Linked DNA regions of Homo sapiens. The protein of the gene in region 2 interacts with the protein of the main gene of each other region in a pairwise test. Each region holds a gene or a part of one and is shown on either strand. Other genes may lie near its edges.

Region 1 (5,252 bases), on a different chromosome or scaffold from region 2:
ATGCATCGAGATCTGGGGGAAGAGTGTTTCAGGCATCGAGAACAGCCAGTGCAAAGGCCCTGAGGTGGGAACATGACGGTCATGTCCAAGAACAGCAAGGAGCCCAGTGTGGCTGGAGTGGAATCTGCCAGAGGGAGAGGGTGAGAGGCAATAGCAGAGTCATCAGGGGCCGGGCACAGTGGCTCATGCCAGTAATCACGGGAATTTGGGAGGCCAAGGTGGGTGGATCACCTGAGGTCAGGAGTTTGAGACCAGCCTGGCCAACATGGTGAAACCCCATCTCTCCTAAAAACACAAAAATAACCTGGAGTGATGGTGGACGCCTGTAATCCCAGCTACTCAGGAGGCTGAGGCAGGAGGGATCACTTGAACCAGGGAGGCGGAGGTTGCTGTGAGCTGAGATCATGCCAGTGCACTCCAGCCTGGGCAACAGAGCAAGACTCCATCTCAAAAAAAGAAAAAAACAAAACAAAACAAAACAAATGAAAAACAGTTATCAGGGGCCACGGCATGTAGGGCCACGTGGGCAACGCAAGGACATCATCATTTATTCCAAATGAGACAGGTGCTATAGGAGGGTGCTGAGCAAGGAAGCGACATAATCTATCATAGCAATAATTTATTTTTTTTGAGACAGAGTTTTGCTCTGTTGCCCAGGCTGGAGTGTGGTGGCATGATCTCGGCTCACTGCAACCTCCGCCTCCTGGGTTCAAGCAATTCTCCTGCCTCAGCCTCCCAAGTAGCTGAGATTACAGGTACATGCCACCACACCTGGCTAATTTTTGTATTTTTAGTAGAGATGGGGTTTCACCATGTTAGCCAGGCTGGTGTCGAACTCCTGACCTCAGGTGATCCACCTGCCTCAGCCTCCCAAAGTGCTGGGATTACAGGCGTGAGCCACCATGTCGGGCCACAATAATATTATTACTATATTATTACTATTTTTTGAGACAGGGTCTGGCTCTGTAGCCCAGACTGGACTGCAGCGGCACTTTCCCAGCTCACTGCAGCCTCCATCTCCTGGGCTCAAGCAACCCTCCACCTCACCCTCCCAAGTAGCTAGGACTACAGGTGCACACCATCATGCCTGATTAATTATTATTATTATTATTATTATTATTATTATTTTGGAGGTCATCTGGTTTCACCATGTTGCCCATGCTGGTCTTGAATTCTGGGGCTTAAGCAACCTGCCTTGTCTCAGCCTCTCAAACTGCTGGGATTACAGGCATGATTGCCACTGTGCCTGACAATAATAATAATAATAAAATTATTATTATTGGAAGCCACTGTTTCTTGAACATTTTGTGTTTTGTGTCAACTTTTTTTTTTTTTTTAGGGACAGATATTGCTCTGTCACTCAGGCTGGAATGCAATGGCACTATCTTGGCTCACTGCAGCCTCGAACTCCTGGGCTCAAGTGGTCCTCCCACCTCAGCCTCCTGAGTACGTGGGACTACAGGTGTGCACCACCACACCTGGCAAATTTATATATATATATTTTTTTTAGAGACAGGGTCTCGCCATCTTGCCAACGCTGGAGTGCAGTGGTGCAATCACGGCTCACTGCAGCCTCAAACTCTGTGCTCAAGTGATCCTCCCACCTCTGCCCCCTGAGTAGCTGGGACTACAGGCAGTGGCCACCACGCAGCTTTAAACACTGTATCACTGAAACCTTGTTTTATTTTATTTTATTTATTTTTTTTTTTGAGACGGAGTCTCACTCTGCTACCCAGGCTGGAGTGCAGTGGCGCTATTTTGGCTCACTGCAACCTCTGCTTCCTGGGTTCAAGCATTACTCCTGCCACAAGCCTCCCGAGTAGCTGGGATTACAGGCGTGCACCACCATGCCCGGGGCTAATTTTTTGTATTTTTAGTAGAGACGGGGTTTCACCATGTTGGTCAGGCTGGTTTGGAATTCCTGACCTCAAGTGGTCTGCCTGCCACGGCCTCCCAAAGTGCTAGGATTACAGGCATGAGCCACCGTGCCTGACCTCACTGAAACCTTATAATAACTGTCTGAATTTGACACTATTGTTATATTTATTCTACAGATAAGGCACAGAGAAGTTAAGTAATTTACCTAAGATCACTCAGCTAAGTAGGTAAAATTTTTTTTTTTGAGACAGAGTCTCGCTCTGTCATCCAGGCTGGAGTGCAGTGACGCAATCTCGGCTCACTGCAACCTCCGCCTCCAGGGTTCAAGCAATTCTCCCGCCTCAGCCTCCTGAGTAGCTGGGACTACAGGCACCCGCCACCATGCCCAACTAATTTGTGTATTTTTAGTAGATACGGGGTTTCATCATATTGGCCAGGCTGGTCTCGAACTCCTGACCTTGTGATCCGCCCACCTCAGCCTCCCAAAGTGCTGGGATTGCAGGCATGAGCCACCGCGCCCAGCCCTAAGTAGGTAAATTTCAAAGTGTGTTAGTCCCCGCTGCAGAACCCCATGCCCTAGAATATTACCATCTCCAAATCTTGGGCTCTGGAGAGCTGGCAGGCAGCACAGCAAGTGGTCCTGAGCAGCCCCGGCCTCCATGACTGTGGGTGTCAGTTGCAGCTGGCTGTGCCTATTTCCTCATCGGGGAAACAAGAGTCATTGAGGTGAACCTACCTCTGGTTTTGGGAGTCCTTGAGGAGTTAAGATTTGTCCAGCACGTGGCACACAGGCTCCGGTAGACAAAGCTGTGGGTAGCACAGGACCCAGGCAGGAGTCCCCACCCCCCCACCCCCACAATGTCAGAGTGACCTGGCCCTGAGGCTCTCTGCTGACTATTATGGGTTGGCTGGCACTGCTCAGCACTCCAGCTGGTGTTGAGGCAACAGGAAGGACAGAGAGGAAGTTGGGGCACTCCCCTCCCCCATGCCAGGTAGCAGTGAAGAGTCCAGGCCACTTGGTGTGTGTATTCGGAGTCTGGCATTCCACTTTCGTATTATTTTTATCCCTAGAGTAAAAGGTGTGCAGAATTTAGCCAGGTGCAGTGGCTCACACCTGTAATCCCAGTACATTGGGAGGCTGAGTTGAGGAGGAAGGATCGCTTGAGGCCAAGAGTTCAAGACCAGCCTAGGCAACACAGTGAGACCCTCTGTCTCTACAAAAAATTTAAAAATTAGCCAGGCATAGTGGTTCGTGCCTGCAATCCCAACCTTTTCTAAGACTGGGGTGGAAGATCACATGAGCCCAGGAGTTTGAGGCTGCAGTTAGCCATGATCGCGCCACTGCACTCCAGCCTGAGCAACAGAGTGAGACCCTGTCCCAAGAAAGAAAGAAAAAGAAAGAAAGAAAGAAAGAAAGGAAGGAAGGAAGGAAGGAAGGAAGGAAGGAAGGAAGGAAGGAAGGAAGGAAGGAAAGAAAGAAAGAAAGAGTACAGCATTTAAAAACTGAACCCCCCCTAGCCGGGCACAGTGGCTCACACCTGTAATCCCAGCACTTTGGGAGGCCGAGGTGGGCGGATCACTTGAGGCCAGGAGTTCAAGACCAGCCTGAGCAACATGGTGAAACCTGGTCTCTACTAAAAATACAAAAATCAGCCAGGCATGGTTGTGGGCTCCTGTAATTCCAGCTACTCGGGAGACTGAGGCAAGAGAATCGCTGGAACCCGGGAGGCAGAGGTTGCAGTGAGCCAAGATCATGCCACTGCACTCCAGCCTGGGCGACAACAGCGAGACTGCATCATAAAAAACAAACAAACAAACAACAACAACAAAAACCCTCAAATTCCTACCAGCTGTGTGGCCTTGGGCAAGTCACCTAAACTATCTGTGCCTCAGTAAAATGGGAATAATAATATTCCTGCCTTAGGGGGTGTTGTAAGAATTCAACAAGTTAGAAGGGTAGAGCTGAGTGTATAGCGCTGGTTTTCAGTGGGTGTCATACGTAGGCTAGCTGCTGTTATCACTGTCCACACGCATCCTCTCACCCCGCAAAGACTCCACCCTTCCTGGCCCTTGTTGATTACAATCCAGAAAACGAAAACTTTCTTTTTTTTTTTTTTTTTTTTTTTTTTTTTTTGAGACGGAGTATCACTCTGTCGCCCAGGCTGGAGTGCAGTGGTGCGATCTCGGCTCACTGCAAGCTCCACCTCCCGGGTTCGCATGATTCTCCTGCCTCAGTCTCCCGAGTAGCTGGGACTACAGGCGCCCGCTACCACTTCCGGCTAATTTTTTGTATTTTTAGTAGAGACAGGGTTTCACCGTGTTAGCCAGGATGGTCTCAATCTCCTGACCTCATGATCCGCCCACCTCGGCCTCCCAAAGTGCTGGGATTACAGGCGTGAGTCAACATGCCCAGCCCAATCCAGGAAACTTTCTGTGCATATAATTTGCCCAGCTGTAAGCCCAAAGCAATGGTATCGTAGATGGCATTTCCTTTGTAACGTCTTAACCAGAAATGGGAGCTTTCAACATACGTTGTTCCATTTCTTCATCTTTTCCACTTAACGTGCCCGATATCTGTTTTCCTGTCTATCTGTACAGATATCAACCCCATTCGTCCTCAAAGCATCAAAAACAGTCCACTGTCTGCCCAAGTGGTGCTTATTAACTAAAGGCCATTCAATAACAATGGTAAGGAGAATAATGAGAAACAGGGCCAGGTGCAGAAGCTCACACCTGTAATCCCAACGCTTTGGGAGTCCTAGGCAGACGGATCACTTGAGGTCAGGAGTTTGAGACCAGCCTGGCCAACATGATAAAATCTCATCTCTGCTAAAGATTTAAAAAAAAAAAAAAATTAGCTGGGCGTGGGGGCGAGTGCCTGTAATCTCAGCTACTCAGAAGGCCGAGGCAGGAGAATCCCTTGAAGCTGGGAGGTGGAGGTTGCAGTCAGCTGAGATCACACCACTGCACTCCAGCATGGGTGACAGAGTGAGACTCCATCTCAAAAAAAAAAAAATTGGATTTGGCTTAGATGATTTTGTCTTGCTGTTGGGTAATGTAAATGTTCTGAACACATTTGAGGTAGGCTACGCCCGTGAGGTCAAGGCTGCAGTGAGCCAAGATCGCGCCACTGCACTCCAGCCTGGACAACAGAGTGAGACCCTGTCTCAAAAAAAAAAAGTAGGCTATGATGTTCAGTAAGCTAGGTGTATTAAATCCAATTTGATTTACAATATTTTCAACTTATGTTGAAAATGTTGGGGGCTTTTGTTTTGTGTTTTCGTCTTGTTCAGTCACCCAAGCTGAGTTCAGTGGTTCAACCTCGGCTCACCACAGCCTCTACCTCCTAGGCTCAACTGATCCTCCTGCCTCAG
Region 2 (5,497 bases):
CACTAACAAATAAACAACAAAAAATGCAAAAGAGACGCACAGCAGAAGAGAGAAGAAAAAATTGAAGGATCACTTCCAGAAATGGACATCTAACCATGAGGAATTGTAGAAAGGAGAAATCTGAAAGAAATAAAGCAAAAACGCTTTCCAGAACTGACAAATGTAAGTCTCTTGATTGAAACAGTCCCCCAACGTCCAGCATGGCAAACAAAAACAGCCAGAGAAGGTCATGTCACTGCAATTTCAGAATGCTGGAGTTACAGGGAGTACCCTGAGAGCTTCCAGAAGTCAGGGGAAAACCGGCATACACAAAGGTCAAAAATAAGAATCACACCAAGCCTCTAACAGTGAATCAGAAGCCAGAAGACAATGGAGAGATGCCTTCAAACTTGTGAAAGAAAACTATTTTCAAGGCCTTGAGCGGTGGCTTACACTTGTAATCCCAGCACTTTGGGAGGCAGAGGCTAGCAAATCACTTGAAGTCAGGAGTTTGAGACCAGCCTGGCCAACATGGTGAAACCCCATCTCTACTAAAAATACAAAAAATTAGCTGGGCATAGTGGCACACACCTGTAATCCCAGTTACTCAGGAGGCTGAGGTAGAAGAATCGCTTGAACCCAGGAGGAGGAGGAGGTTGCAATGAGCCAAGATTGTGCCACTGCACTCCAGCCTTGGCGACAGAGCGAGACTCCATCTCAAAAAAAAGAAAAAGTAAATTATTTTCAATCTAGAATTCTATATTCAGCCAAACCACTAGTCAAATGAAAGGACAGAATAAAGATATCTTCAGACATGCACGTTCTCAAGGGAATTTTTCCCTCTGTGCAACCTTTCCCAGGAAGCTAAACAAACAAAAGGATGAAGCAGGAAAGAGAAGACACAGGGTCAAGGGAACAGGGGATCCAACACAGGAGGGAGACAAAGGGGTTCCCAGGACGAACAGAAAGGGAGGCCCCAGGATGGCACCCGTGGTACCAGCAGGCGAGTGGCTGGGCGGGATTGGAGTGCAGGACAGGAGAGAAGTTTCTCGGGGGGATAAAGGAACTGACAGGTTTGACCACCCTGAATTATCTTATTTTCTTTCTTTTATATTTTTTCGGAGACAGAGTCTTCTTCTTTTTCCCAGGCTGGTGAGGTCACAGCTCAGCACAGCCTTGACCGCCCAGGCTCAAGCAATCCTCCAGCCTTAGCCTCCCAAGTAGCTGGGACTACAGGGGCAAACCACCACATCCAGATAATTTTTGTTTTAATTTTTTAGAGACGTGGGTCTCACTATGTTGCTTAGGCTATTCTGGAACTCCTGAGCTCAAGCGATCCACCCGTCTGGGCCTCCCAAAGTGCTAGGATTACAGGTGTGGGCCACCATGCCCAGCCCACACTGGAATTACATTTGAGGCTAGGGGACGTGTAGGAAAATGTAGCTACGGTAGGCACAGAAAACTAAGTAAGCAAGGGCAGGAGAGGGGGCCAGGATCCAGGAAGAGCCAAAATCATACAAGAAAAGAAACAATGTTATGACCCTGCCTGGATTAGAAGTGAACACTATGTACATGATCGTCACAATCCACAACCGAGCACACGGATTGAACAGGAAGATTGGGCGGCAGGGTGAAAGGTTGCTCAGCGGGAGTATACAAAAGCCAAATCTCCCTGAGCCGCAGCAGGCCATGAATAGGTACGGCCTAAAACCAGTGCACAGAGAGGTAGCAGTACAGTATAAGCAAATCCCTTGGAAATATGGAAGTAAACTCCAGAGGAAACAGCCCAGACAGAGCCTTCTGAGAAAGGGAAGGGGGCAGGCCCCAGGGGAGAGGAGGGGCAGGACTGCTGTTTTGTTTTATGATTTTAGCACTATTTAACCTTTTTTTTTTTTAACTGTCAGCACATACTAATTTAAGAAAATAGTTATTAAAATATAAAATAAATCTATACTGAGAAGAAGGTCCTCTTGTTGCTTCTTGCGTCCTAAGAATCCACCCTCATCACTCCCAGCCGCAGGCACCTACACACACAGCCACAGGCACACTCACACTTACACATGCTCATCACAGACACCCACAAACAGCCCACAGTGACAGACAGGTACACATACATAATATACAAAATCATCTGACACAGGTGCGAACCCAGCGTCCATGACACACACACCCATTCCCAGAAACGCACAATTATATTAATAGATTCACCCCCAGACACACCGAGGCTTCCAAGAGCCTCCCGGAAACCCTGAGAGAAGAGCACTCCCTCCAGGCCTCTCCTCCCTGTGCCAGCACCCCAGAACTGCCCCAGGCCAAGGAGGTTGTCTCCAGGAGCTGCACCCTAATTGCTTTCTCTACTCAGCCCCCTGCTGAGTGCCCAGCCCTTAGGCTAAGCAGCCATTAATCCTCTTGCGCCCCAGTCTGTAGATGGGGCAGAAATGGGGTGGGGAAGGGCCCCATCTGGCAGCTGAGATGTGACTCATAAGGCCACTGTCAGCTTTTTCTTCCCTAAGTCATGGGAGAGTCCAGTTTCAGGAATGCTGTGGTCAGGCTGTGCATCCTGATACAATCCATTTGATGTCTCTGGGTCCAGGAGGGAGTAGGCAGCCTATGAAACGCTGAGATGCTGTGATTTTATGACCCAGTCTGGGCCCTGCTTCCATCCCCTCCCCGGGGATTCTTCTCTCCACCCTGTCCTCCGGGGCCAACCCCAAATGATATGTGATTTGCATGTAGGACAAGCACACCTGGGGCAGCTGGTGAGACCTCCCCCACCCCCACTTCGCTCCCCCTCCATGTTCCTCCAGCACTCACCACCACCCTGGTCCTGTTATCTGGCAGCGTGTCCATGGCCAGGGTGCCCCCACCCAGGTCCTGGCTCAGCTGGGTCCTGTCCGGCTCTGACACATGCCCAGGGCTCTCTCGGGCTCTCCGGTTCCAGCCCCGCACGGTCCCTTTGGCAGCCCATCCAGAGCCTGGGCCCTCATCGTGACCTGGGAGAAGGGGACAGAAACCTGAGTGCCAGCAGTCCGGAATGAAGATCAGGAGGGGAATCCAGCCCAGTTATTCTGCAAGGGCCCCAACACCATGCCACTGTAGAATTTGCAGACACTTGACTGACTACCAGGACAGGAGACACCCAATGTGTACTGAGAGTCACGTGCCCAGCTCCAGGCCAAGCACTTCGCACATATCCTTTTAATCCTCATGCCAGCTCTCCGCAGTAGTTAGGATGTTCTCCATTTTGCAAACAAGAATCAGAGGCTCAGAGGTTAAAAGTCACGCAGTGGGTTAGGCATGCAGGTAAGTTTCAAACCCAAGCTGATCTGCCTCCAAAGGGTGATTATTCTCAACCTCAGCTATACACTGGAGTCACCTGGACAGCTTCAAAAGTTCCTGATGTCTGGGTCCCACCCTAGAGATCTCTTGTAACTGGTCTATGGTGTAGCCTGGGCATTCAATTTCTTTTTCTTTTTCTTTTTTTGAAATGGAGTCTCGCTCTGTCACCCAGGCTGGAGTGCAGTGGCCCGAGCTCCGCTCCCTGCAAGCTCCGCCTCCAGGGTTCACGCCATTCTCCTGCCTCAGCCTCCCGAGTAGCTGGGACTACAGGCGCCCGCTACCGCGCCCAGCTAATTTTTTGTATTTTTAATAGAGACGAGGTTTCACCGTGTTAGCCAGGATGGTCTCAATCTCCTGACCTCGTGATCCACCCGTCTCGGCCTCCCAAAGTGCTGGGATTACAGGCGTGAGCCACCGCGCCTAGCCTCGATTTCTTAAAAGAGCCTCAGGGGAGATTTTGAGGAGTCTTGGACTTAACTCTGCAGGCAAGGGTGAGAACCATTGCCGTTGAGCCTTCCAAACCAGTTTCTTATTTCTCTGGCAGAAATGGCACATAATCCTATTTCCCAGTGGGGTCAGGGGACTAGAAGCCAGAGTTCTTTTCGTTCAGGGCTTCTCAACCTCGGTACTATTGACATTTGGACTGGATAATTCCTTTTCCAATTTTTTTATTGTGGCAAAATACACATAACAAAATTTGCCATCTAACCATTTCCAAGTGTACAATTCAGTAACATTAAATACATTCCTAATGTTGTATGACCATCACCACCATCTATCTGCATAACTCTTTTCACCTTGTAAAACTAAAATTCTGTACCCGTTAAATAATAACTCCCTATTCACCCCTGTTATTTTATTTTATTTAAGAGATGGGGCCTTGCTCTGTCACCCAGGCTGGGGAGTAGTGGTGCGATCATAGCTCACTGCAGCCTCCAACTGCTGGGCTCATGCGATCCTCCCACCTCAGCTTCCTAAGTAGCTGGGACTATAGGCATGCGCCACCATGCCCAGCTAATCTTTTTACTTTTTATAGAGACAGGGTCTCACTATTTTGTTCAGGGTGGTTGGTCTTGAATTCCTGGTCTCAAGCAATTTTCCTGCCTTGGCTCCCAAGGTGCTGGGATTACAGATATGAGCCACAGCGCGCAGCCTGTATCTATGATTTTGACTACTCTAAGTATCTCATATAAATGGCATCATACTATATTTGTCTTTTTGTGATTGGCTTATTTCACTTAGCATAATAAATTCAAGGTTCATTCATGTCGTAGCATATGGCAGAATTGACTTCCTTTTGAAGGCTGAATAATATTCCATTGTGTGGATATACCACATTTTGCTAACCCACTCAACTATCAATGGATGTCTGTTTTGCTTCCACGTTTTAGCTATTGTGAACAATGCTGCTACAAACATGGGTGTACAAATATCTCTTTGAGACCTGGCCTTCAATTCTTTTGGGTATATACCCAGAAGCGGAATTGCTGGATTGTATGGTAATTCTATTTCTAATTTTTTGAGGAATTGTCATACTGTTTTCCATATAAAATGTTTTCCATGTAAAATGACTGGACCATTTTACATTCCCACCAACCGTGCACATGGGTTCCAATCTCTCCACATTCTTGCCAATACTTGTTATTTTCTGTTTTTTTTATAGTAGCCATCCTAACAGGTATGAGGTTATATCTCATCGTTTTTATAAATTGGCATTTCCCTGATGATTAGTGATGCCGAACATCTTTTCATATGCTTGTGGGCCATTTGTATATCTTCTTTGGAGAAATGTCTATTTAAGTCTTTTTCCTGTTTTTAAATTGGATTGTTGGTTGGACTGGATAATTCATTGTTATGCGGGAACTGTCCAGTGCTCTGTAAGATGTTTAGCAGCCGCAGCCTTGGCCCCTGCTCACTAAATGCCAGTAGCACCACGCTCCTCCCCATCCCAAGCTGTGACAATGAAAAACGTCTCCAAACATTGCCAAATATCCCCTGGGGAATAAAATTAACCCCCCCTTGCCCCATTGAGGGAGGGGTAATTTTTTACTGTTTTACTCCTATCACTACCTAGATACTGTCTAGGATGGCAAATAGGTTTCATATCACATGCCATCTGCAATCCATTCGTGACAGCCAGAGGCACTCCAACTGAGAATGCAAAGGCTCCTCTTGTATT

The links. The genes of interacting proteins can lie anywhere in the genome.
Region 1: the proteins of PLXDC1 (region 2) and C5AR2 interact in a two-hybrid assay, tested with the Homo sapiens proteins (one large-scale study listed by BioGRID and IntAct).

Annotation. Positions count from the first base shown.
Region 1 is NC_000019.10:47,334,532-47,339,783, reverse strand, and holds part of C5AR2 (C5a anaphylatoxin chemotactic receptor 2), read right to left. Parts: intron 2,690-5,252; exon of another isoform or gene 2,615-2,689; intron 1-2,614.
Region 2 is NC_000017.11:39,136,861-39,142,357, forward strand, and holds part of PLXDC1 (plexin domain-containing protein 1 precursor), read right to left. Parts: intron 2,973-5,497; coding exon 2,794-2,972; intron 1-2,793. UniProt on the Homo sapiens protein: Plays a critical role in endothelial cell capillary morphogenesis.